2 linked regions of the Homo sapiens genome follow. The protein of the gene in region 1 purifies or fractionates together with the protein of each later gene. This does not show direct contact. Each region holds a gene or a part of one and is shown in the gene's direction. Other genes may lie near its edges.

Region 1 (3,500 bases):
AGTAGCGAGGACACACATGCATGCTATCATGCCTGGATAATTTTCTTTATTTTTTGTAGAGCCAGGGTCTTCCTATGTTACCCAGGCTTGTCTCAAACTCCTGACCTCAAGTGACCCTCCTGCCTCAGCCTCCTGAAGAGCTGGGATTATAGGCATGAGCCACTGCAACCAGCCAGAATTTTAATTCACACAGCTGTAAAAAACCAATGATTCTGATCAGTGGGCAGTGATTCGGGGCCCAGGCTCCTTCCATCTAATGGCTCTGCCGTTTTTCCACGTGCTTTTGAGGTCACCTCAATGTCACCATTCACATGGGCTGGTGACTGCAGAAGGATCATGCAGGACCACACGTGCAGAGTCTTTAGAGTCCCTTGGCCAGAAACAAGTCACACAGTCACATTTAGCTGCGAGAGGGTCTAGGAAATGTAGGTGAGCTGTGTGCCCAGGGGGAGGAGGAAAAGTTGTAGGAGCGGCAAGTCGATGTCTGCCACCAGTGTTTACAAGGAGGGGTGCTTGCAGCCAGACTGAACAGTGTGGCTCATAATCCCCAAAGCCAGGTCAAGGACTTCACTGAAACTCATCAGCCATGTAATCCCATGCTGGAGGTGCACTCCATATGGTTATGATGGGGCATCCTTCATTCCCTCTCTTCTTTATTCTATTAATGGGGAAATATTGGAAAATTTAGGAGGGAGAAGACCCAAGGCATTTGGGGAGTTGCAGGAGTGAACGTGGTGGATTTCTGGGTTTTGGACACACCCCAAGCTCCTGATCATGCCACAGCCCCATGCCAGCTGACCTAAGGTTTTTTGCCCAGCTCAGGGCATTGGGTGATCGAACTCTTCATGACCCTTCCAGGGACTGGAGCCAACAGACCTTTGACTATCTCCTGAGCCATGTCCATTCTCCCAACGCTGAAAACCTGGGCCTGTTCCTAATCTCGGGCTACAACCTCTTCCATGAAGCCATTCCGGTGGGTGAACAGTTCTTGACCATGAGGGATGAGCACCCAGGGCTGGGGTAGTGAGGGTGGGTGCAGCAGAGCCTTAATCACAGATGAGGGCGGGGTGCTTTGAGTCTCGTAGGCAACAGACTCCTGGGTTCAAAACAGGTTTGGTTTAAATTCTATTTTTGCTTTGAAAATTATTTTTGTTTTACATTTTGCTGTTAAATTGGCAGAGGACAAAGAATCTTCTGATGCCCAGGGGAAACTAGCCTTTGATTAGCATGGCTAAAATACAAACATGTTCTGCAGTGACGGGCACTTGGTGCTGAAGCCAAAAGGTTTCAAGTGCCCCTGAAGGTCCCAAGGCTTTTTATCAAGAAGGAATAAAATACTCATCAAAGCAAAAACTGCCAAAGCATTTATTATGTGCCAGGTCCAGTCCTAACTAATTTACAGCTAGCGACTAATTTAATTCTCTTTATAACCGGGAGGTAAGGGCTGTCCTTATCCTCACTTAATAAATGAGAAAACGGAGGCTCCAAGAAATGGAGTAACTTGCCCAAGGCCACAGAGCTCGCCAGTGGCAGAGCTGGGATTTGAACCCAGGCCATCTGTGACTCCATGGTGTCCAGTGTGCTAACAGGAACAGCACAGCCCTGGGACGGTTTGCTCAGGCTCCTTGGAGAGGGTGGTCTGGCGCTGTGCCCAGAGCCCCGTGCCAGCTCTCAAGGTTCATTCAACCTTTGGCACTGTGCTAAGGGCTTTATCCACATTATCTGTTACCTTTCATGGGACCAAGAGTATTTTTTTTTTTTTGAGACAGGGTCTCACTGTATTGCCCAGGCTGGAGTGCATTGGCATGATCTCGGCTCACTGCAACCTCTGCTTCCTGGGTTCAAGCCATTCTCCTGTCTCAGCCTCCTGAGTAATTGGGATTACAGGTGCGCACTACCACGCCTGGCTAATTTTTGTATTTTTAAGAGATGGGGTTTCACTATGACGGCCGGGCTGGTCTCGAACTCCTGACCTCAAGTGATCTGCCTGCCTTGGCCTCCCAAAGTGCTGGGATTACAGGCGTGAACCACTGCACCCGGCCAAGAGTGATTATTAACTCCATGATACAGACAAGGAAACTGAGTCTCAGAGAATTCAAGTAGCAAGTGATGAGGCTGGGGTCTCTGACACTATGCTCTGTTGTCTGACACTATGCTCTGTTGCTTTCTCTCATCCCCGGGGACTCTCACTGTTTCTGCTTTCTCTCCCCTATTTCTGACTTTTCCCCTATAACTCACCCTCGGTCTTACTCTTACCCTTACCATAAATAGGGGTTAAGAACATGAACTCTGGAACTAAGCTGTATGGGTTAAAATCCCAACACCACCATTTATTAGCTGTGTAATCTTAGACAAGTTATTTAATCTTTCTAAGCCTCAATTGGTCCATCTGTAAACTGGGGAAAGAATAGCATCCACCCCAATGGCTTCTTGTGAAGATTAAATGGACCAGTATAAGAAAATGCTTGGAACAGTGCCTTATATGCACTTAGCATTACATAAGTCTCTGTCATTATCATTTTTTTTTTTTTTGAGATGAAGTCTCGCTCTGTGGCCCAGGCTGGAGTGCAGCGGCACAATTTCGGCTTACTGCAACCTCCAGCTCCCAGATTCAAGCAATTCTCCTGCCTCAATCTCCTGAGTATCTAGGATTACAGGCATGCACCACCATATCTTGCTAATTTTTGTATTATTATTTAGTATAAACAGGGTTTCACCATGTTGGCCAGACTGGTCTGGAGCTCCTGACCTCAGGTGATCCACCCATCTCAGCTTCCCAAAGTGCTGGGATTACAGGTGTGAGCCACCTCGCCTGGCCCATTATCATTATTATTGACTTCCATCCCACCCAGTGCCCCCTTTGTCCTTCCTCTTCAGGACCCTTCCTGGAAGGACACAGTTCTGGGATTTCGGAAGCTGACCCCCAGAGAGCTGGATATGTTCCCAGATTACGGGTGAGTTTATTGTCACAGGCAAAGGGGACTGGGGCCTGACGAGTTAGCAGACCTGTCCAGAAGGCAGCAGAGGGTAGAGGCACCAGATTTCCTGTCCTACCCAGGCCCTGGTACCCTGGTCTCCTGGTCCTTGGTCCAGCTCCTTCAGAGAGGCTACCCACTCAAACCTGGCCTTGGGCTGGGAAGGTAGGGGGTATGAAATCACAGATCTCAAGCCCAGAAGCTCCATATCACCATATTGTTTTGTAGATGAAGATACTGAGTTTCAGAGAGGCTAAGTGACTTCCTAAGGTCACACAGCCAAGTGGCCAAACTGGGATTCCAACCAGTCTGTATGACCCCACACCCCTCCTTTCTTTTCTCTACAGCCTGATGCCTCTCTGGTCTTCTCCTCACCCCACCCCACACCACACCTGAATCCCCTCTACGAATGCACATTCAATCTCCACTTGCATTTTCCAATGTCAGATATGGCCTTTTCTGATAGAAAAATTTTCCTTGCATTGAGCTCAAAACCACGTCCCCCCTTGAACTTCACGTAGTGGT
Region 2 (3,429 bases), on another chromosome or scaffold:
CAGGGTCCCAGAGCTAGTGGAGGCTGTGCTGGGCTCCCTGTGAGCCTCTGGATCTATGGGTGGCAGTCAGGGCTCTCCCATTTGTGACAGAAGAAAAAGCCTTAGGCTTCACCTAGCCTGGGTTTCACAGCCCAGGACACTTTGGAAGAGGCAGAGAACTTCATGACCATAGATGGAGCTGGCAATAGTAGGACTGACACAACGGTGACATTGATGTCTAGTACTGAACCCACAGGCAATATTCATAGCTACCTCCAGAAGCTTTGCATGATTGGACCCCAGTGTGGGGAATCCTGAGAGCCAGGGCTGTGGCTGTAGCTGGATTAAGGTACATATGTGGGTGTCCCTGTTGAAGGAGTATATGTTGAAATGCCCGGTGCTGGGGCACTTCCTTACTCCACCTCTATTCTTTTTTTTTTTTTTTTTTTTTTTTTGTGCTGGAGTCTTGCTCTGTTGCCCAGGCTGGAGTTCAATGGAGTGATCTTGGCTCACTGCAACCTCCGCCTCCTGGGTTCAAGCGATTCTACTGCCTCAGCTGCACGATTAGTTGGGATTACAGGTGTGCACCACCACGTCTGGCTAATTTTTGTATTTTTAGTAGAGATGGGGTTTTGCCATGTTGGTCAGGCTGGTCTCGAACTCCTGACCTCAGGTGATCTGCCCACATCAGCCTCCCTCAGTGCTGGGATTACAGATATGAGCCACTCCTCTTCCTCTTTTTTCCCTCCAGTGTTCCACGTGTTCCCCCTGTGAGATGAGTAGCATGCTGATTTTACTCCTATTCACCGACCTTCTCTGCATGAGGCAGGGAGTGAGGCACAGTGGGAGATGTATAGATGACTGCCCCATCCTGGAAATGAGTGCAGTGAGAGGGCTGCAGGCAGAGCAGCCTGTGAGGTGTGTGTGGCACCACCTGGGTACCAGGCCCGGGGCCTGCCCCTCACTCACGGGGAACCATCCCTCACCCTTGCTGATCTTGTTTCAGAGCACAAATCCTACTTTAGTACAGATCTGGGAATTTGAGGCATTAGTCCAACGGGCTTCTGAGCCTAGAATCTGTTTCCCTTTCCCATCAAGAAATCTGCTTGCTCAGCTAGTTCCCATCAGCTCTGGTTCTGGTCCAGGCTTAGTGGCCTTGGAGTTATGTAAGAGGTGGTGGGAAGGGAGGGGTGGAGGAGAGCTGAGGTCTATGGCCTATGACATGCCAGGGTCAATCAGTTTGAGAACAGGCAGTCCTGGATCTTTTTTTTTTTTTTTTTTTTGAGATCGTGTCTTGCTGTTGCCCAGGCTGGAGTGCAGTTGCGTGACCTCGGCTTACTGCAACCTCTGCCTCCCGGGTTCAAACAATTCTCTGCCTCAGCCTCCCGAGTAGCTGGGATTACAAGTGTCTATCACCACGCCCAGCTAATTTTTCTATTTTTAGTAGAGATGGGCTTTCACCATGTTGGCCAGGGTGGTCTTGAACTCCTGACCTCGGGTGATCCACCCACCTCGGCTTCCCAATGTGCTGGGATTACAGGTGTGAGCCGGATGTTTTTGAATACCTTATCTGGGCATTCAATCCTGGTAAGATTGTGCACAGCACATCTGAGTATCATGTAGCCTGATCTGCAGCAGGGCTGGAGATGCCATGGGTTAGGGCACAGTGAGATTTTGCTCAGGTATTAGATGGAGAACTTTGGACTTTCTGCTTTAAGGGGAATGTTTAGAGCCTAGTCTCGCCTTTGATTTTCTTGTGCACTGCCACCCCCCATTCCACTTTCATCCAGGTTTTACTGAGACATTGGGTGAGTGTGTTCAGAGCCCCTTTGTTCTGCTGGAGGTCCCTTCTGTGTCTCTATACCCAGACAAGCCAAGAGCCTCCCTGTGGAAAAGGAGACTGTTTGTGCAGTCAAGGAGTGACAGGGCCTGGTGTGAGGGGTGGTGGGGCAGAAGAAGAAGAGAATTTGTCAGGAAGAGGCCAGAACTGGAGAGAGACAGAACCAGGCTACACTGCAGTTCTATTCCCCTTACTAGGTATTTAAATGTAAGGAAGTTGCTGAACTTCTGTTTCCCACATGAGAAATGGTGATAATAGATTCAGCCTTGCAGAGCAGTCGAGTGGGTTTTCTAAGCTTACGTTGTAATTTCTCTTGGGTACAGAGCACCCAGCACCGTGTAGAATCTTCATAAGTGTTAGCTGTTACTGTGGTACAACATTACTTAAAGGAAGTTGGAAGAGTTAACTCCGCAAATCTGGGGACCCTAAGAAGCTGTGTGATGCCTCAGCACTTGAGCCCACATGGAAAGGCTGTGGCCAGGGCCCTGACCTGCTGTGTCTGCAGTGGGGTTGTCCCAGCCCTCATGGGCAGCTGACCTTGAGTTCTGGCCTTATTTTCCCCCCTCTCAGGGCTTGGAGAAGATCTCTGCCTACATGAAGTCCAGCCGCTTCCTCCCAAGACCTGTGTTCTCAAAGATGGCTGTCTGGGGCAACAAGTAGGGCCTTGAAGGCCAGGAGGTGGGAGTGAGGAGCCCATACTCAGCCTGCTGCCCAGGCTGTGCAGCGCAGCTGGACTCTGCATCCCAGCACCTGCCTCCTCGTTCCTTTCTCCTGTTTATTCCCATCTTTACTCCCAAGACTTCATTGTCCCTCTTCACTCCCCCTAAACCCCTGTCCCATGCAGGCCCTTTGAAGCCTCAGCTACCCACTATCCTTCGTGAACATCCCCTCCCATCATTACCCTTCCCTGCACTAAAGCCAGCCTGACCTTCCTTCCTGTTAGTGGTTGTGTCTGCTTTAAAGGGCCTGCCTGGCCCCTCGCCTGTGGAGCTCAGCCCCGAGCTGTCCCCGTGTTGCATGAAGGAGCAGCATTGACTGGTTTACAGGCCCTGCTCCTGCAGCATGGTCCCTGCCTTAGGCCTACCTGATGGAAGTAAAGCCTCAACCACATTTGCTGTGTGTCTTGTCTTATTTGCTCCTGGCCATCTACCCAGACTGTCTGTCTGTCTGTCACTGCCTCTTCCAAGGGACTGGCTGGTGATCCTGGCAGTGGCTGGGTTCTAAAGGATTCTGCTGGGCATAGTAAGGCGCTTGAGAATTCTTGCTCCCATTCCTGAGAGACTCAGAGCAGGAAGCCCCATGAGGCACTGTGGAAAGGATGTCTCTTTCTTGGCCTGGATGTCCCATTCATTCATCCAGCCGTATTGAGTACTTTCCATAATTGCACAGAGCTTGTGTCTCATTGAATAGGACCCCAAGGGGGTGGAATCTCCATCAGAGAGAACCAGGGTCCCTTTTACCTTCTCCACTATATGACTACATCACTTCTGTTAGGTCTCCAGGACCCAATCTCTATTGTTTTTCTCAGATGGCTTCCAGGTACCCTCTCCAGGCTTGCTGCACAGCTGTCATCAGGACGTTCTCTCTGGGTTTACTTCCTCTCTTTCCTG

The links.
Region 2: the proteins of DAO (region 1) and GSTM1 purify together in Homo sapiens (affinity purification with mass spectrometry; one large-scale study listed by BioGRID and IntAct). This does not show direct contact.

Annotation. Positions count from the first base shown.
Region 1 is NC_000012.12:108,886,592-108,890,091, forward strand, and holds part of DAO (D-amino-acid oxidase), read left to right. Parts: intron 1-858; coding exon 859-973; intron 974-2,877; coding exon 2,878-2,954; intron 2,955-3,500. UniProt on the Homo sapiens protein: Catalyzes the oxidative deamination of D-amino acids with broad substrate specificity. Required to catabolize D-amino acids synthesized endogenously, of gastrointestinal bacterial origin or obtained from the diet, and to use these as nutrients.
Region 2 is NC_000001.11:109,690,817-109,694,245, forward strand, and holds the end of GSTM1 (glutathione S-transferase Mu 1), read left to right. Parts: intron 1-2,389; coding exon 2,390-2,479; 3' UTR 2,480-2,929; downstream 2,930-3,429. UniProt on the Homo sapiens protein: Conjugation of reduced glutathione to a wide number of exogenous and endogenous hydrophobic electrophiles. Involved in the formation of glutathione conjugates of both prostaglandin A2 (PGA2) and prostaglandin J2 (PGJ2).